Linked DNA regions of Homo sapiens: region 2 is linked to region 1. Evidence: fine-mapped expression QTL. Tissue or cell type: whole blood. Region 1 holds a variant in brackets; the other region holds the start of a gene. All regions are shown on one strand. Distances are between the middles of the regions.

The links. PIP is the estimated chance that this variant, and not a neighbour inherited with it, causes the effect.
Region 2: RFX7 starts here. The variant in region 1 is fine-mapped to the expression of RFX7 in whole blood (INTERVAL, PIP above 0.99).

The regions. Positions count from the first base shown.
Region 1 is chr15:56,191,243-56,201,791 of GRCh38, reverse strand. All of the region lies in intron 2 of RFX7 (regulatory factor X7), which reads left to right. It also overlaps the pseudogene LOC390586. Among named protein-coding and RNA genes, the nearest start is that of RFX7, 47 kb to the left of the region's middle. The variant G/C (reference allele first, on the strand shown) is at 6,031.
Region 2 is chr15:56,237,687-56,248,235 of GRCh38, reverse strand. It overlaps RFX7 (regulatory factor X7), which reads left to right and starts at 4,357. Exons shown (of 10, transcript NM_022841.7): 1 at 4,357-4,791; 2 at 4,949-5,111. The coding sequence starts at 4,951. LOC124903569 (laforin-like) reads left to right here and starts at 3,418. Exons shown (of 3, transcript XM_047433428.1): 1 at 3,418-3,502; 2 at 4,057-4,253; 3 at 4,354-4,885. The coding sequence starts at 3,418. The coding sequence ends at 4,803. It also overlaps a transcript of TEX9 not described here. RefSeq lists enhancers at 2,448-3,093, 3,332-3,381, 3,094-3,739, 3,740-4,385 and silencers at 3,632-3,681, 4,172-4,461, 4,612-4,671, 4,762-4,831.

The DNA of each region.
Region 1 (10,549 bases):
CCCAAAGTGCTGGGATTACAGGCATGAGCCACCACGCCCGGCCAGTGTTTTTTAAACTTTTGGCCAAAAAACAAATGATTTCTTATCCATACATCGCTTTGAAGTAGCCCAAAAAGAGACTACTACCAGACATTCCTACATAGAATTATGCTTTAGGCACAGGAAGGAAAATGAAAAATCTAGACGTATCTAACTATATCCTTAATAAATTATTTTACCTATTTCCACTAATAACTCTTCTATCTTTAAAAATATATCAGTTTTGGTATCTTCCTCTCTAGAGCATCATTTGAACATTGAGGAGATTACTTCGTAATTTTTTGATCTCCTTAGATAGCCTTCTCCTTTATAGATTGAAATGCTTTTAGGCTGGATTTTCTTTCCTTTGGTTCTATTACTGCCTTGTGGAAGAGAATTTTAATATTAACTATCAAATTGGTTTTCGAATTGTTTTGCCTTTTGTGATAAGAAAAGTTCTGTGATTCTTGGGTTTAAGTGGAGGACTACAGGACATTGAACTTGGCGACTTTATTTTTTGGACCAGATTTGGGATACTGAACCCTTTACTGCCCTAATAAACTCTTAACTCTAGAAAAGAGTAATAAGTCATGTCTTACAAGTATACCTGTAGGCCATTTTAGCTACAGTTTTAAGAAATGTTCTCATATTAATTTATATGAGACACTGGTATAGTCCGTAGTCTTCCCATTAAGCACCATTACCTGGATATGCCACCTTAATGGAATTCTCATTTTAACTTCAGCTCTCTAAACCATTTCCATTTTGGTTTTCTTTTTTATAATCATTTAAGCACCTAATACCATGGGCTGGTTTAATGCTTTTCAGTTAAAAAAAAAAAGACTTGTACATACATAGCATGTCACCTATTAGTGGCACCTAAAGTACATTCAAAAAATTGAAGTCACATTTATCCTCTTGTTTTTCTCAATTTAAAGATCTGCCTTATCTCTGACACAACTTTTTCTTTTTTTTTCTTTTTGAGACGGCGAGGCTTGCCAGGCTGGAGTGCAGTGGTGCGACCTCTGCTCACTGCAACCTCCGACTCCCTCATTCAAGCATTTCTCCTGCCTCAGCCTCCCGAGTAGCTGGGATTACAGGCATGCACCACCACACCCAGCTAATTTTTGTATTTTTAGTAGAGACAGGGTTTTACCATGTTGGCTAGGATGGTCTCGATCTCCTGACCTCGTGATCCGCCCACCTCGGCCTCCCAAAGTGCTGGGATTACAGCACTTTTACGACTTTTTCTTAATGTAACATTAGATACTAAGCTGCATGGTTTGTAACTTCCTCTGAAACTATGCAGTAGGAGAAGAAGAGTTGTTTTCCCCACTGTGCAATCCAGTGATGTTATCTTGCCCTGTGTTTTAGCTTCTTTTTAAATGTTTTATATGTTATAAAAACTTAAACAATAACAAAAAGTTTTAAAAGCTTTTTAAATGTTTGAAAAGAAAGTAAAGGCTTAAAATCTCATCTCCCAGAGAGAACAGTCATCCTTACAGATGGGTCGCTGTGCATGTAGCTATCTCATGTTTTCATTTCATTATTTTTATGGAGATTGTTTCCTGTTCTGTAGACTAGGTAAATTTGCCTGTATTTGGAACCTGCACCTACCTCTGAAGGTTCAGCACTAGAGGGCACTGACCTTTAATTCAGCTTATTTACTGACAATATATAATGTTTCTATGACAGAGGAAGTTCCAAAATGGTAAGACTGGGGCACAAAATATTCTTCTTGATTAAAATCCCAGTGTAAAGTGGAGGCATTATTATCAGACATAATCATAGCATTTTTAACTGGATAATGGAGCCAAATAAAAATCAGTGTGTGACCTTGTACAAGTCATTTTTTATCCTAATTTGTAAATGAAAGGGTTAGACTAGATTTAGTTTTAATGTAGCATTTATTAAGAACCTATTACATGCTTGTTATTACAATATGGCTTTTTATGTAAATGTTGAATCTTTATTTTAAAAACTCGAGATGTAGTATGCCTCGGGAAAAATGATTCTTCTAAGTCAAGGGCATATAGCTAGTAGTTGCAGAATTGGAATTCTTCCTGTCAAGACCATGTTTTTGGTTCCTGCTATATTTACCATGGTGTTTCTTACTAAATAAATTTATTTGAAGATCTTCTTAACTTTAAGGAGTATATTATATGTGCAAATGCTTTCCTGTTATTTGACATATTTGAATCCTGTTGACTCTTTGAGCTTTTAATATTAATATCAACCTGAAAATGCTTGCATTAAAGAAAACAGGGAAGGCATATAGATTGAGGCTAAAGAGAGCAGCACAATTTGTTCAGTACTCTGCCTCCCCAAAATACATATTTTTACAATCCTGTTAGAGCAAATTAGCTATTTTTAAATATTACAATGGTAAAATTCAGCATTTGGAGCAACCAGCAATCACGTAAGGAAAGATACCTATACGTGGAAGGACAGCAAAAAAGGAAAATAACTCATTAGAAAGCAAAAATGAGTCATTATATCCTACACTTTCAAATAATATTCTTTCAGTATCACTCAGTGGTAACTTAAGTAAATACTGATTAACAGTCACTCAGTAGACTGGTTATAGTGGTTGAATCTTTGATTTACAGCCTTCTCTTGTAAATTTTAAGTTTTTCACAGTTTAAATCAACATCAGAAGGTTTTTAGGTGTCAGACTGCAGTCTCTTAGCTGTAGGTCCTACATGGTTTATTTGCTTTTCCTTTTAAAAGGATCTGCTAAGTCCTTCCTCTCTTTTAACTTTTTTTTTTTTCTTTGTCAGAGATGGGGTCTTGCTATGTTGAACAGGCTGGTCTTGAACTCCTGGCCTCAAGTGATCCTTCCATCTTGGCCTCCCAAAGTGCTGGGTTACAGGCCTGAGCCACCACACCCAGTCCCCTCTTTTAACTTTTCATTGTAAAAAATTTCGAATGTATACAAAAGGAGAGAAAAGACAATGAACTCTCAGGTCTTTATTATTCAACTTTAACAATTAGTTTCATAGCTAATCTTATTTATCTGTAAGTCTTCATTGGTTATTTTGAAGGGAATCCCAGACATCATATCACATTTACAGTTTGTTTGAATCAGTGTCCTTATGGCTACTGGTGGATATCTCTCAAACTGTAGATCCCTTTAAAAAATTTTTTCTTGAAGTTTTTTATTTGTTGAAGAAATTGGATCCTTTGTCCTATGGAGTTTCCCACAGTCTGGATTTGCTGATTTTATCTTCATGGTGCTATGTAGCATATTCCTCTTCCCCTTTATTACTATAAATTGGTAGTTAAATAGAGATATGTTTCAATATTTCAGCAAGAATACTTTGTAGGTGGTGTTGCGTACTTACATTGGGAGGCTGAGTCCCTTTTACTCTAATGGAACATATTTCCTTGACTATACTGAACTAGACATACGTTGCTCTAGGGAGAGATGTTTTTCTTTTGAGGGCGTCTGAGGCAAAAGTCATTCTAGGTCCCATTCTTTTTTTTCTTTTTTATACTGCCTCCACTACAGCATTCCACCTTTGAACTTCAGGTTAGGGATTGTTGGGAAGAGGCTATTACCCACCTGTTGTATGCTCCTAAATTATTTAGTTAAGAATGTAGAAACCAAGTGACTATTCTGAATAGCAGCAAATACAGTATATCTAAAAAAGTTTTTCCCATCTCTTTAGGTTTCCTGTGGTACATATAGCCACCGTCCCTACGAGAAAGGTTCAGCTAGCATTGCTGTATCAAGTTCTGAATATATCATTGCCTTTTTGTACCTAGGCTTTCTTGAACATTCTGCAAAGACTTAATAAATGATATTTATAACATCACAATTTTCTGGATTTTGAACTAATTCAGCACTAGCAAGACCATATTCTCATCCTGGGGGAGAGAAAGCAGAGTCAGTGCCCAGATGCACTTAAGTGGTATATTTACCTCTAGCATTCCAGAATCCTGGAAAGCCCATCTTCCTGCAGTCCACCCCTTGAATCTGTTTTAATACCCTTTGACTTCTGTGGTTCAAATATATAGTTTGTATCAAAGACCATGATCCAAATACTTTTTTTCCACACTCCTATCCCTACTTTGCTTCCCTTTCTCTCCCTTCTCTTTCTTCCATCCTTCCTTTTATTGGTCACATGTTTATAATTGCCTAACGTGTACCAGGCAAAGTGCTAGACTTAGGAAGCAGGTTAACAAGACATAGGCCTTGTGTGCAAGGGAAGGGATGGCCCACTGGGACATTTCATTATCTATATGAAAAAAAAACTATCACATCACACATGGAATCCAGAAAAACTCAGCCCCCAAATGTGAAAAGCAAAAGTTTAGAAGAAAATAAAATAACTTTGGGAGCTCACGGTAAGGAAGATTTTTAAAAACATGTCAAAAGCACTTTTCATAAAGAAAAATATTTGACTATATTAAAATAAAAATTTTCCTTGGACAATGAACACTGTTTAAAAAAAGCAACATGCCGCTGATGGCGATGTAACTCAAGTAGTTGACAAAAGATTAGTATCTAAAGTATAAAAAGAGCTTCTATTAGTAAATAAAATAATAAAAACCACCATGCAGAAAAAGGGGTAAAGGATATGAGTAGGCAATTCACAGAAGAAAACTTAGTGATCAGCAAATACATTAAGGTGTTCAACATCACTGATTAAAAAAAATGCATTTTAAAACAAAATATTTCATACCCATCCGATTGGCAGAAGTCTGTCATTACCAATTTTGGAGAGGATAGAGAGAAATCAGTCTTATACACAGCTGATGGAGTATAGATTGGCCAAAATTACCTTGAAAGGCAATTTGGCAATAATTAGAAAGTTGAAGATCAACATACTGTAGTGTGTGTGCGAATATTTGTGTATGTGTCCAAGAAAAAGTCCTGCAATATGAATAACAAGATCTCCATACCAAACATTTGTTGCAATGTTGTATGTTACAGTACAGAGCTGGAAATACCGTTAAGAGCCCATTATTAAAGAATAAATAAAGCAATGGAATACCGTGCATATTAGTTTGCTAGGGCAACCATAACAAAGTACCACAGACTTGATGGCTTAATAGAAATTTATTTTATTTTATTTTATTTTTACCAGTTCTGGTGGCTTGAGGTCGAAGATCAAGGTGCCAGCAGGGTTGATTCCTTCCGAGTGCTGTATCCGTTCCATCAGATACAGCACTTGGGGGTTAGGGCTTCAACATACAAATTTGGGGAGGGGTCTGGACACACAATTGAATCCACACTTCTATGTAACAGTTAAAATGGGTAAACTAGAATGTATCAAAATAGATAAACTTCTAATGCCTATTAAGTAAATTTTTTTAAAAAAAAGAGTGATACATGCCGCAGAACTTCATGCCTGTGAAGTAAACAAAACTATTGTATTGTTTATGGAGATAGTCAGCATTTGTAGTAAATGTATATACATTCATGGGAATAATAACAACTTCTGGATAGCGGTCACCACTGAGAAAGGAATGGTGGAATGAGATAGGAAAAGATCCCATGGGGACTTTATCTGTAAAGTTTTCTTCCTTAAAGAAAAAAGGAAAAAGTTGAAGTTTGTTCAAACTGGCTAGCAGGTACATGGGTGTTATATTATTCTTTATAACTTTCCTATATATTTGGAACCTGATAATATTTTTTAAAAAGCAAAGAAAATATATGAATGAAATAATGTTATTAATAGAAGTTGAAAATTCATTTGTGTAATATGATCTAGTAATCAAATATCAGGCACAAGTTACCTTATGATAAAGTTCATTCTTCTGGCTGAAATTAGATTTTATGTTTAGAACAACAATAAAATCAATAAATCTTTATAGCATCCTATGTCAAAAGCAAGATGTTTACTTTCCATACATAAAAACGTGTGAGCTTTTGAAATGACTCATTTGTAGAGCATTGAGTTGCGTATATTAGGGAACTTCTTATAATGTAACACAATACATAGCATATGTCATTTTGTTCTAGAGCAGTGGCTCTCAACTAGAAACAAGTGGAAATAATGTGGG[G/C]CAATTTTAGCTGTCAGAATGTCTAGGAAGCACTGCTGGCATTTAGTGAACACCACTGTATGATTCCAAACATCTTATAATGCATTTGATAAACCCATAAAGTAAAGCAGGGTGCCATCCTAAATGTCAGTACCTGGTTGAGAAACACGGGTCTTTGGTTAATTTCCTTTCATGAAAAGTAGAGTCTCTAAAATTCATAAGAGCAGGCAAGTACTAAGAACAATGACTATTTCAAAGGCAACTTGGATTACAGAGAGAAACAGAATTGATAGTTTGCAATCTGTTGATTAGGCACTAGTAGTATCTAAAGGAAGTTTTTTCTTAATTTTATGATCCTAATTATTTTTTATTAAGTAAAATTAATAACATAAAAATTAACCACATAAAGTGTATGATTCAGTAGCATTTAGTAACTTTACAGTGTTATGTAGCCATCACCTCTATCTAGTTCAAGAACATTTTTCATCATCCAAAAGGAATATGCATTAAGCAGTCACTCTTCATTTCCGCAACCCCAACCAACCACTCATCTGCTTTCTATCTCTCTGGATATAGCTATTCTGGAGATTTTGTATACAGGGAGTCATACAATATGTGACCTTTTATGTCTGCCTTCTTTCACTTAGCATAAAGTTTTCAAGGTTTATCCATATTGTAGCATTTGTTGATACTGCATTCCTTTTTATGGTTGAATAATATTTCATTTTAATAATATATCACATTTTGTTTATCCATTCATCCACTTATGGTCATTTGGGTTGTTTCCTCCATTTGACTCTTGTGAACAGTGCTGCTATGAACATCAGCCCATTTGTGTAGAGGTTTTTGTTTGCATTCCTATTTTTATTTCTTTGGGTGGAATTGTTAGGTCAAGTGGTAATTCTCTGTTTTAGCTTTTTGAAGATATGTCAAGTTTTTCAAGAGCAGCCATATCATCTTTCATTCCCACAAGCAATGTGCAAGGATTCCAATTTCTCCCCATCCTTACCAACAGAATCCATTATTTTTAAGAAGACAAAGTAAGTGAATTTAAATGTCTTCATGGTGTGATTCCGAATGTTTTTTATTTCCTTTTTTTCTGGCTACACCTTTTTAGCATTAGCCACTATTATGACTATTATTATTTTTTTAAATATAAAAAATTTTGTTTTATAGCATATGAGCAAACAAAAGTAAAAGTAAATAGTTTTCATTTAATATAAGCAAGTATAAGGTAAAAATAAGTTTTGCTATGATGGACTGCGAGCCAAGTCACAACCTACAAAAGGGATCTGAAGTCAATGTGTTTTTAACGGAATTAATTATTTTATAGGGGTAGAAGCTAAGAGTTTGATTTGTCCTGGTAAGGATAGAATGTAAGAGCTTCTTCTCGTTGATCTATTATAGTATACCTCCTCTATTTCAGATTGTCTTTGGGTTAAATCTAGTATCTGGTATTCACAGATACCTCTGTTTCTATAACACAAGAAATTTGAATCAAGTATATAGGAGTTGTGAGTCACTCTGACTTCAGACTTGAGGACTCCAAATAAATGTAAAAATAGCATTGAACTTTTGGATAGAGGCTAAACTTGGTGTTGGAAGGGACAAGTGAGAGTCTCCTAGAATATTTTCTGCAGTAAAAAATAGTTTATCAATGATTTGTTGAAACTGGGGAAAGTTTCTGAAATGTTTCTAGCAAACAAGATATCTAAATGTTCTTTCTGTGATACTATTGCTTACATTGTATTATATATTATATATGTTTGGCCCATGACTGCTAATTTATTTATTGTATCATCTTTAAATTTGAATAAAGGGAAATGTTACATGGTATTTTTGTGACATTTCTTTGTGAGAAAGTAGGATTAGACTAAGTTTTTTTAATTTTTAAACACATGCTTCCTAAAATTTATTATTTCTTTTGTGTAGCCCCCCTGGATAAGAAAGCTTTATCTAGCTTCACCCTATAGTTTGATTTAGAGAAAACACAATATGCTTTCTCAAGCCATCTCTGTTGCTTAAATTTTTATCTGCTTTATTGCTGATGTTTTCCCCCTCTTCCCTACTACTTTATATCAATAACATTCTGGTAATATGACTTGAGATGTAAATCTTGAAAGATTTAGAAGATGAGTAGTTAGCATGTTCCATAAATGTAATAGTTATGATACCACAGCACAATTATGGTACTGAAATTTTGTTTTTTAAAATCTAATACCAAAATACCAGACTGATACTATTTAATTAAAATTTTTGTAAAAGTTAAAAATCAGCAAAACAGGAAGTTCAATGCCTGTCATTATCAATTATCAACAATCATCAATTTAAAAAATTAGAAAAATATTAATGTTGAGCATACATTGTCATTTGAACAAAACTTATTTGCAGATAAAATTAGTAGTATCATTTTATTCAAAAATAGAAAATGGCCTCAGAGGCTGCCCGTCTGCTGGTCCCAACACCACACGCGCCTTTCCTGCCTGGGTCTTGTTGCAGTCGCCGCCGCCACTGCACCATGGCTTTCATCACCAGGCAGTTCATGCACTCTTTGTCTTCCTTGTCCACAACCTTGGGCAAGAAAAATCATCATCAAGCACATGATGGTCATCAGCATCACACAGGTTGCTGCAGTGACCGGCCACACAGTAGTGTTGCTAGACCAGACAGAGGACATCTTGGCAAAATATAAAGAGGGAATTGAGAAAAGCCTTAGGAAAGTGACAAAGAAGTTGTTTGTAGAAAACCCTAAGGCTTTTGATGAATTTGTGGAGAAAACCCTAAGCAGCATATCAACCAGCACAGATGCAATATCCGTAGTCCACAGCACAGACCTAGTGGTAGAGGCCATTGTAGAAAATCTAAAGGTGAAAATCAAGCTCTCCAAGAGGTTGGACAAGTTTGTTGCTGAACATACAAGTTTGCCAGCAGCACTTCCTCTTTGCAAATTACAAGCATAGCCAATGCTACCACCAAACAAGACCGATTTGCTGGCCTCCATTTACTCAACCCAGTGCCCCTGATGAAATTTGTAGAGGTCTTTAAAACACCAGTGACCACCCGAAAGACATTTGAATCTTTGGTAAACTTGAGCAAAACCCTGGGAAAGCATCCTGTTCCTTGCAAGGACACTCCTGGGTTTATTGTCAGCTGTCTCAGGATTCAACACCTCATGGAAGCAGTCAGGCTGCATGAATGAGGTGATGTATCCAAGGAGAACACTGACACTGCTATGTAGTTAGGAGCCAGGTACCCCATGGGCTCACTTGAGCTTCTAGATTACGTTGGGCTGGATTCTGTGCAGTTCATCATGGATGGATGGCATGAAATAGATACAAAGAACCCCATATTTCAGCCCAGCCCATCCTTGAAAAAGCTGATGGCAGAGAAGAAGCTTGGCAAGAAGTCTGGAGAAGGATTTTACAAATACATGTGATGCTCAGCTTCTCTGGCACTGAGAAGAATCCCTGTGAGCGCTTACCAGCCAGCACCCAAAGTGCCTGTGAGAATACTCTTTGGTCAGACATTCCCTCACACAGCACAGTCTATTTGATAAGCATTTTGATTGTAATCTATCCGAAGTTATTATTACGCTAGATACAGTAGTAACAGATTCCACCATTAAGAACTAATTCCCATGTTTAGTCTGTTTATTTCTGTGTATTTTCTAAAAAGCGTTATACTGTTGGTGCTTTGGAACAAATGCTGTCATTTTTGTAAAGAATTGCCTGAATTCATTCTCTCATAAGGGGAAGATACTTGCTCTGAGAGTGAGAGTGAGAGTATATTGTGTTCATTGTTGCTGTGTGGCAGTCACAAGCCATTGGGACAGACAGGGTGTGTCTGTGGAGTGCTTCAGCAAGCAGCACCTGAATCTTGCCTTTATGAGAACATTTTGCCCCTTGCAGCCTTGAGCCTTACCCTACCTTCTGGGCACAACATAAGATGTTATATCTCCATTCAGCTGATCATCAAGACACTGCTGCTGCATGGGTGGGCTTTCCATGTGCTTGGTTTGCAGTAAGAGGTCGGTTTTCCTGGTCATTCAGTTCCACAGATCGTAATAATTACTATCTGTCTGGTTTTTTTTTCCCACAAGAAATCAGTGTTGCAAAATTGCCTATAAATGGACTAATAAAATACAGTCTTTTAGTCTGTCAAAATTTGAATTGAAATAAACATGTATAAAATAAAAATGTTTAAGAAACCCCAAAATAATAAATGAACATTTAAATTATGAAATATTTAAAAGTCAAATGTTATCTGCTTTTATAAAGTGCAGGCTCAGATGTGCATTGGTGGTTTATTATTGAGTGATACGTGTATTTTTGTGCATATCTTTCCAGCTGCTGAAAATGCTTTCTTAACTAGTTGGAGTAATGGTAAAAAGATAGATAATTGCAAATATATTCTTCTAACTCCTTTGTCTATAGGTAATTCCATTTCTTTTTTGATAACTTTGAGGTTTTGTTATTTGAAATTTTATTTACTTGAATTTTCATATATTTAATTTTTTAATCAAAGCTTTAGGAACTTATAA
Region 2 (10,549 bases), 46 kb before region 1:
TAACTTAGTTCTGAACCCCCCAACTTCCCTCTTCTGTAATCTTGCTGCTGCTTTTATTTTTCTCCTCTTCACTCCCTCCCACATCCTCTTCTCTCTAATGCTATTAAAGACTGAAAGAAAGCTCAATCACATTACAGCATTGAAACTTATATATATATAAGCCCTCCTAGGACTACTTGCACTTTGAAAGACAACAGCTTAGCTGAAAGAAATTATCCATCACTTTCTGCTATCAAGGAAGAATTGGGAGAGGTGAAAAGCCTTCTTTCCTTGTTCTCTTAAATAACATGTAGGTCATTAAACTCTACTTTCAGCTTCTAGAGGAGAAAGCTTGCAATGGAAAAAGACAGAGGAAGTAATGATCAGGGGAAAAGAGGATGAGAGGAGTATTTTATTTTTATATTCAAGTTGGGAAAGAAGGAGAACAGGGTAGAACTTTACCTTTTCCATATCTGGTAAACCACCATACTTTGTGGAAGTGAAATGTATACTTTCAGCACTTAATCAGTATGTACCAATAATGAAACCGACTTTCAGGCCTTCCTTTGATAGAACGATCCTAACTATAATGCAAAGTAACATTTTGTAAAGTGGGTTTTTGTCTCTCTCTCCTTCTTTTCCCTCGCCTATACTACTTTAGGATCTGATCACAGAGTCAACACCGTGCTATGCATTATTCCTTCAGCAAACAGTACCCTTTCATGGCTTCACACCAGTGCTCATGTTACTCCCTTTATCTGAAATCATCTTCCCTCTGTTGCTCTGCCTACTCAACTCCTATTCATCCAACAAGACCCAATTAAAATGCCAGCCATGATGCCTTCTCCAGTTCTTCTACCCTGAGCAAGACCAATCCCTCCCTCCATTATGACTCCACAACACTAGTGGATATGTTTATAACTCATCATCTTATATATGTTAATATGTTGCTCTACTTCACAAAAATGTAAACTACTTCAAGTTGGGGCCAGGTCTTATTTATTCATATTTTCCGTGCCCAATACTGCTATATATCAGGCATGATAAATGTATATACTACAGTCTGGACAGTATAAAATGTTTACAGTTTCATAAAGGAGACAAGGTTTACAGACACAAGAGAGCAAGACAATATAATGGATTGGGCTAGGAAAATGAGGGTTAGTTAACTACTAAATTCCACAAATATTTATTAAATAGTCAGGAGTCAGGAATTATGTCCTGGGACTACTAGGATAAATAAAATAGTCATTTCCTTTGAGGTGCTGACAATCCATCTTGTAGATACTCTCTAAATGTGGACAACACTTCCCTGGTTTACCTATAACTTTTCATGTTTTCCTTATAGCAACCCTCTGATGTACATCATTATTTTCATTTTTATAGAGATCGAAACAGAGGGTTTGAATTCCCAGGTCTTCTGACTCCAAGGCCAGGTTTTTCTAACCCACTACATCAGTGTTCCTCAAAATTTTCCTCTGGTGTACACTTTCCCAGTAGAGAATAAACTTAGGCTCCTCAGGGTTGGGTAATACTTGTGTGTTATCTTAAAAAGTCATGCTTACTACAATGTCTTACCTTATTTACCAGAGAGTCAAAATGATGCTCAGAGAAAATGAGCCACATTGATTCTGGGTCCTTGAGGGTCCTCAGTACAGGGTTGCACAATCAAAGGAACCCACATAATATGAGAAGCACATGGCTACACTCCTGCCTTTATTCAGGGTCCCTGGGTTTGGCTTGAGTCCACACTCAAAATTTTGGGTAACTTCATCAGATTTCTTAATGTCATGATTTTATTCACAGTCTTCTCTGAAGACTGGAACAAAACACCCACTGTACTCCCAGATGTTAAGTGAGTAGTGAGGGCTGCCCCTTTCCTCCCTGAAAGGGTATCTCACTCTGGCAATAAGGTCTCCTCAGTCTGATACTCTCTGCCACCCCTCCCATTGCTGGTCTCCTTCAACTCCCTGTAGGTCCTGGAAGGCCGGAAAAGGTTTACCACCACACTCCGGTCAGCACCGCCGCTAGAGGGCAGCCCGCGGCTGCAGCTTCGTGAGCCCTCTAGTGGCTGCTGGGGTGACCTGGCTCTTTTATGGAACCCATTAAAAACTCTCAGAAGTTGCACTTGGGAAGCCAGCCTGTGTGACACCCGGTAGCGAACTTTTTATAAAACGTCTTGGTTCTCGGCTTCCTTTTCTTAAGGCCTTTGGCAGACCTTAGATACGTTACCCCCTCGATGACTCTCCCACTTCCTAAGGATCTCCCCCTCCCAGGGTGTTGCAACTTGGAGCCATCATTCTCTCTTGGCAAGGCAAAAAATTAGAACCTTGGGGAACTTGGCAACTTTCCTCAACGTGATATAGGGCATACACACACACACGTATATATATACCTACATTCAAGATTTTTCAGCGTAATTCCAGTTTCAGCATAGCTTGCAGGCTCTGGAATTAAACTTCCAGGACTCAAATTTTGGCTCCTGCATTTACTAATTGGGTAATTTTAAGAATGTTAATTAACCTAAGCTTCCATTTCATCTGTAACAGAGGGAGACTAATAATACCTACATTATACACTCTTGGGGAGGAATAACTATGATAATGTATGGAAAGTGCTAGTCTGGCACACAAAGTGTTCAACAAACATTAGCTATTTTTATCCTTCAAAGCTTCTGTCTAGTGCACACCATGTCTATCAATTAGGTCCACAAAAATACTGTCTTTACACACCCACATGAAGATATGTATGCAAAATGAATGTCGTAAACCACCTATAGTTTCCTAAAGTGGCTAAGCTAATAGAGACCTTAGAGTATGGAAAAGGGGGCTCATTTGTGTGATGCAACTCGTGCAATGGGTAGTTGGAGCACAGCGTAATCCAAGAGGCCCCGGGGGCGGGGGGGCGGCTTATTTTGCACACAGGTGTTCTTCCTCCCTGCACCCCCACCCTCAACCCTCACCACGTGCAAGCATTCAGTGTGAGTCTGGGCCTTAAGTCTGTGGGCCAGGAGAGAGGGCACAGTGGACAAAAGCAAGAGGGTTTCAGGCCAAGGCAGGGAACTGAGAACTCAAAGGCCAGGCAACCCAAGCCAATCAGATTCACCATCCACTAGGAGTCTAAAAGGTGGCAGAGCCCCACAGCCCAAAGTCCACACACAGCAGGAAAGTGGCCAGAGGATCTAACAGGTAGAAACCTGATAGACACTCTATCAGAAAAGTTAAAGCTGAAGGGCTCATAACACCCACGGGCCCAAAGAAAGGTCAGTGTGAGCTGAACAGCTGTTCCATTTGGTGCCAGAGGCCTTGGCTGTTGTATTCTACATCCACGCAGCCTCCCTGATCAGCCCCACCTAGAAAAGCCAATTCTTCTGCTCTTAAAGGAGACTGACTTATTTGTGGCAAAGCTATCATTTAGGTATGAATGGGAAGGGGGGGAATGGTGCGGAGTCTGCGGGGGGAGGGCGGGTGTTCAACGGGCTCCAAAGGAAGGAGCTCGTGGCTGACGCCTGAGCCTCCATGTTGTGAGTACTACATGCGTTTCTTTCAGAGGCAGGCAGTGGCCTTGGCTGCAGGGACCCTGACAAGCCGCGACTTGAGCTATGCTTTAGAGCCTGGGTGGAATTGGGAGCGGTATAAAGGAGGGAGGGCATTCCTGGAAAGGGGGTGGGGTGGGGTGGGGAGGTGGAGGGGAACAGCATGAGCAAAGGCACGAAGGAAGAATGAATCTGCTGCGCGTTGAGGATGGCATGGAGACTTCCCTGATTGGAGCCGGGAGTTCTTGCAGGGGGATGGAGGCCGCTATGATTGGATAGTTAAAGTGGGGCCAGATTTGGAGGGCTTTGAATGCCCGACCGAGGAGCACTCAACCCAGCTCCTGACTCGCGATTTCCGTTCAAGACCGAATTACCTAAAGGGTGGTTAATTCCAACGGGTGTTCTTCTTTGGGGGCTTCTGAAAAGTCAGTTTATCGTCTTACCTGCTTCAGTTCTCTTCATTTACTCAGGGAGGAAGTAATCCTCACATGCATGTGCAGGGGAAGGGGGATAATGTTGATTTCTCTTTACTTGCTTTGAAGATGCCTCCCCCGCCCAAATCCCATTTCCACGCCAAATATTATTAAATTTGGTTTCTCCTCCTCCTCCTCACGCAAGTTCTCTTTCTCTCGCCAGCACCTCCCCCACGTTTTCCTGCTCTCCACCAGCCGGGCCGGACTCCTCCCGGCCCCCAGCGGCGCGCTTCCCTGGCCCGCTGGCCCGCGCCGCCCTCCGCGCCGTGCGCCCCCATCCCGGCCCGTCGCGCCCGCGGCCCGCACACCCTGGTCCACGCCCCCCGGCGGAGCGGTAGGTGTTGTGCGGTCTGCGCCGGGCCGCAGTGCGGCTGCGCGCACTGGGCTGCCTCCGGGGCTGGCAGGGCAGCGGCGGCCGCGGCGGCGGCGGGGCCGGGAGCGAGCGGCGGCGGCGGCGGCGGCGTGGGGAGTGGCGTGGAGCGGTGCCTGGGGCTGCAGCAGCACGGGGACCCGGCAGTAGAAAGCCCCGGGGACAAGGAAGGAAGGCTTGGCCGCCAAATCCCTGAGCAACCGTTCTTCTTGGATTTTGGGGGGAGCCTGCCCCCCCCACTTCGTCTTCAAACGCCCCCATCTCACCCCCCCACAGCCCCGGCCGCTGACGGGAGGAGGCGGCGGCGCCAGCGGGGGGCTGAGGGGCGCCGCCATGCCTCTCCCGCGGTGAAGCGCCCCGGCCGTGAGGAGCCGCTGGTCTCCCCGGTGATGTTCCCCAGGCGGCAGGCGAAAGCGACTCACTCGAGCCCTGGGGTAAAGGCCTAGCTTATCCAGCTTCCTTCCTCCTCCTCCTCCTCTTCCCCTCCCCCTCCCCCTCCTCCTCTCCCCCCTTCGTCCTCCCCTCCCGGTCTCTTCCCTCACCCTTCCCCGCGCCCCCATCTTTCCCTCCCTCCCTCCCACCCCTCTGCAGCGATGGCAGAGGAACAACAACAGCCGCCACCACAGCAGCCTGATGCCCATCAGCAGCTTCCCCCCAGCGCCCCCAACTCGGGGGTGGCCCTGCCAGCCCTTGTGCCCGGGCTGCCAGGGACAGAGGCCAGCGCGCTGCAACACAAGATCAAGAACTCCATCTGGTAAGAGGATCCTCCATCGCTCGCGTGAAAAAGCCCAGGCACATTTCTGCTGCAAAGTGGGTGGGGGGCGGCGGGCGGGGGGAGCGGAGGAGGAGGCTGATGCATTCATTGAATGTGGCTTTCCCCAGTCGGGTGCACATTTGTAGGATCTCTGGAGGTGTGCGGACTTTGCATCAATCAGCCCCTGTCTTCTTAGCTAAAAAATGCTTTTACCCCTTCCTCAATTGTGAGTGCAGATAAACAAGTTTTTTGGTTTTATTTTTTCACTCATTGTAACAGAAATATGGGTCGAAATTAAGTCATATTGCATGATGGTGGCATGAATTTGGAACTGGAGAATGTGAAATGTGTTTACTCCTTTTTGCAGCCATAGAAGGAGGAAGAAGTGTATTGTGAATTTTCACCAAACAGATACTGTGCGTAAGAATATTAATATGCAGCACAAAACCTAATGTGTCTCTTCCTTTCAGTTGGGTTAGCTGCTATTTCTGAATGTTTTTGCCTCCCTTATCCTAATATTAAATTTCTTTTTCAGGGAGTTTATTCTTTGCATTGATTGTGAAGAAAGTGCTTTTTTAGTATAAAATATTTTAAGATGGTAGTTTACAACAAAGTGGTTTTTTTTTAAATTAAAATATAGGGAATCAAATGTCTTGCCATTTGTATGTCTTTTTAAAAGAAACCATTGATGGAATATCTTTCGCTATTTTACTTTCTTGTATGAAAATTTCCAATATTTCAGCATTAAACTCCTAAAGTCTAGTGGGAATCTTTTAATAATTAAATACACTAAGTCCATCCACTGTTAGAGCCATTGCAATATTCTTTGAACATGAACTTGCATTGTTTTGTAGGATGCTTCATTAACTGCCTTTTTTAAGTGTAGCAATATTTTTTAAATGGAAAGTAATATTTGGAATTTGGTCTAAGATTGCTTTTAATAGAAGTTTAAAAAGAATTTTATATGGTATTTTAAAAAGCCTTGATTTTGAAAATGGAAATGAAATCTTTGCAGGGCCATCATTGAATATGAGTACTAAAATATCAAAACTCATTTTCTCATTTTGAAAACATATCGTAAAGCAACTGGCGTTGCATGAACAGTATTTGCACATTTTTAAAGTGACAATTTTTAAATACAAGATTTAGGTTAGTTATATAGTAATTTTCATTATTTTCTTGGCATGCATCCATGCCGTCATGATGCTGATATGAAGTAGGTCAGTGCAGGCTTTAATAGTTTCATCAACAGTAGTTGGCAGTTGAGTATCTTGCTTTCAGTTTTAATTTTAAAATGAAGTTTAAATATTTTAAAGGAGAATTTTTTTGGCTTTGACAATAGTCATGTTGTGGCAACTTGAATAGGTCTGATAGATATGATTGGGGTGTGTGTGTGTGTGTGTGACAGAAAGCAGGCTTTATTCTTCAATGGATACCCTCACCCCCTTTTTAAAGCTATAATTTAAAAGAAGAGATGGTGAATATCTTGCTTGCCATCAAGGTTTTCACAAAACCAGTGTGTATGTGTGTGTGTTTTTAACCTCTAGTAACGTGACGTAACTTTGTGTTTCTGAAATCATCATTAAATTGAATTAAGCACCTTGGTTTTACATTCAGATGTGGGAAATCCAAGTTAATGGACTAAAATCTTTTAAGAGAGACAAATTTTAAAAGTTGAATGAGTAATGTATATTTTAATTGATTATGAGAACAAGAGGGGAAAGGAATCTTCACTTTATAGTTTTAAAATAAGTGAGTTGTGGAGGCAACTGACTGAAATGTTTGAATAATGATGATAGTCGAGTGCACTTTTTGGCAAATAATGTGTAAATTTAATTTTTTTTTATATTGGCACATCCATTACAGCCTAACTGCTCTGACTTTAACATGAGAAAAACTTCTGAAGTAGAGTGCACTCCAGTTTTTGGTACTTGCTCTGAAAAAATAATGGGCAGCAAACACGTGAATCCCAAAATATGAAAATTTATATTTTTGTTTTAAAATTGTAATGATACACTTATTGGCATCTAATGATCAACTTTAGAAATCCTATTTGCAAAAATGATTTTTATATACTTAAAATTTCGGAATAAACAACATTTGTAGATAATAAACAAAATTAGTAAATATACTTAATAGTGTCATACCCCCTGCTCCACAAGAATGGATTTATATTATTCATCAAGTGACTATGTAAAATAAAGATATCAAAAGTGAAAACTCCTTTACTACCATATATTCCTAAGAAATAGTATATATGTATTAAATCATTTTTAATAGATGATTGCAGTTAGATATTTCACATTTTTGAGACAATAATATTATTTTACAAATTATTTTATCACCTGATAATATTCTGAGAGACTATCAGTTTTGTACTACTTCCTGAATCATCCTTTGGTGCCATTATTAATGAGAGTTTAAAATTACACTCAAAAGAAATGTGACATTTAAAAATTATCAAATGGGTTTTGCATTTGGTTTATCATAGTTTCTAAATTACTGGGCTTGCATATCACAAACAAGTCTGTACTTGTCCTCCTACTCTACAAATATAAATATAGTATGTGATGTAGGCCTTTGGACAATAAGTTATCAGTTCATAATTTACTCTGTTTATTAAACTGAAATATGGTTTGATAAAAGTATGTGCATTGAAATATCAGGCATTAAATGAGTCTGGAAAAAAAGCATTCAAAGTTGAGTGGAAAAGAGTTGGAAATATATTTTAAAGGTAATTATAGAAAATAAGGTTAGTACAAAATTGACAATGTTGTTATGTTTCTATAATATGGTTATGAATACCTTCAAGTTAACTCTAGGTTAACAAGCTTGCATGTTTCTTACCCTTACTCATTCTTACTCCATAGACAAAAGGTCCAAATCACTGACACTATTCACTAGAAAGGAGATTTCTTAGTAGGCATGTGCTTTAGTATTGAATATGCTGTAAGGTTATTTGTATTTTCTAAAAAGTAGAATTCCAAAATTAGCTTTTTGTTGTTAAAAAAAAAAAAAGAAAACTAGTAACCCATGTATTTTTACCTAAAACAAGGCCACAACCCAACCTAACTGCAAACTTCTTTTAGCTTAAATTGTACCCCTCTTTGGTTACTTCAAAAAAAAAAAAAAAAAAAAAAGAAATACCAAAGCAAGTTTTCCCTTCCTCTTATCTCTCAGTGTCTTCGTAGTTTAGTGAAAATTTTTTAGTGTAAGCAACAGTAAACACATTTACTAAGTCCTTTTATTTACCTTTTTAAGGCAGTTTTACTTGAAACCCTGATAGAATAAAATTGCTGTGGAAAAAATAGGATTGAGATGGTTTCTGCCTGTTTGTGAATTGAGATCATACCTACATGAGTGGGAGTGAATAACATATTTGCAGTGAGGCTGTAACATAGATACAGGTTGATCATCCCTAATCCAAAATCCCCCAGAATTCAAGATGCTCCAGAATCTGAAACACTCCAAAATCCCAAACGTTTTTAGTGCCACAAGTGAAAAATTCCACACCTGACTTCATTGTATCACACACAAAATTATTTAAAATATTGTATAGGCCAGGCGCGGTGGCTCACACCTGTAATCCCAGCACTCTGGGAGGCTGAGGCGGGCGGATCACCTGAGGTCAGGAGTTCAAGACCAGCCTGGCCATGGTGAAACCCCGTCTCTACTAAAAATACAAAAAATTAGCCGAGGGTGGTGGTGCCCACCTGTAATCCTGGCTACTCGGGAGGCTGAGGCAGGAGAATCGCTTGAACCCAGGAGGCGGAGGTTGCTGTGAGCCGAGATTGCACCATTGCACTCCAGTCTGGGCAACAAGAGCAAAACTCCGTTAAAAAAAAAATTGTATAAAAATTACCTTCAGGTTATGTGTATAAGGTGTATATGAAACATAAATGAATTTCTTGTTTAGACTTGGGTTACATCCCTAAGATGCTCATTACACATATGCAAGTATTCCAAAATCCAAAATAATAAATTGGAGGCACACTAGGCGCAGTGGCTCACGCCTGTAATCCTAACACTTTGGGAGGTCAAGGTGGGCAGATTGCCTGAGTTCAGGAGTTTGCGACCAGCCTGGGCAACACGGTGAAACCCCGTCTCTACTGAAATCCAAAAAATTATCCAGGTGTGGCATCGTGCGCCTGTAGTCCCAGCCACTTGGGAGGCTGAGGCAGGAGAATCCCTTGAACCCAGGAGGTGGAGGTTGCAGTGAGCCGAGATCATGCCACTGCACTCCAGCTGGGCGACAGAGCAGGACTCTGGTTCAAAATAAAAAACTAAAAATAATAAATAAATAAATAAGTCGGAAGCACATATGATCCCACGCATTTCAGATAAGAGATAGTCAACTTGTATTAAACTTGTACCTGAAAATTCAAAAGAAATCCTGATGTTTTATTTTAGAAAATATTCCAATACTGCATTTACTCAAATTTAGGGATTCTTAAAAGAATTTGTTATCAATTACTGTTTTTATTTCTGTAACTTTATTTGCAGGCAAGACCTCATAAGCCTCTTCTTAAAACGGTCATATAAGATCTATCGTTTTGCCCACTTTATGGAAAGAGATAAACAATGACAGAAGACCTATAAGATTCTACTGATTCCTTATTAGACCCTGGAAAAAATGCTGGGGTCAGAGTTCCTTATCTTTATTCAATCCTGTAAGGCATACATACTTCTGTATCTGCTATATTTTAGGCTGAAGATTATAATAAAAGTAGAATTATATATATGATCTATTTTGGATGTTTTCTGAATTCTAGTTAAAACCCAAATTGAACAATTTTGTTTTACTTTCTTATGATGATGACAATCAACATCTAGATATTAAGTGATTAATCTCTTGTTTCCATCTTAGTTACAGGGAGCTGTGTTTGGTGATCCAGAAGGTTTACATAGTGATGCCATATTAGTTCTGATTACAGTCCGCCATCCTAGAATGCAGTGGTTCAGTTTTATTCTTGGTTTTTGAATCAGGTAGTTTATTAACTCTGTTGAGAAATATTGTTCCTTCAGCTACAGTGGAAAACATGTACTATAAATTCATAACTTTAGAGTTTACTTTAACTGAAAGTCTATGATTTTCATTTTGCTTTAAAAATACAGACCGACTAGCACATCAGCTGGCTTCCATGTATTTTTGATTAGTAGGTTGACCTCCTACCTACCCTGAGTTTAGCCTGTCTTCAATACCAAGCACACAAAAGACTTAAGATGCATTTTGCATATCCGTATTGAGGCTAGCTGTGTCCCAACATGGTTTCTGGTTCCAGAAGGAAGGCAGTTCCTTGCTCTCCTATGATTTTAAACTGATAAAATTGTCTTCCCTATTGACAAAAGTTAATTGCAAGTTAAGCAATTCCAAGCCTGTTGATTTTCTTGTCTTGTTTAGGTTGGGTAGTGGATATGTACATATTTAAATGATTGAC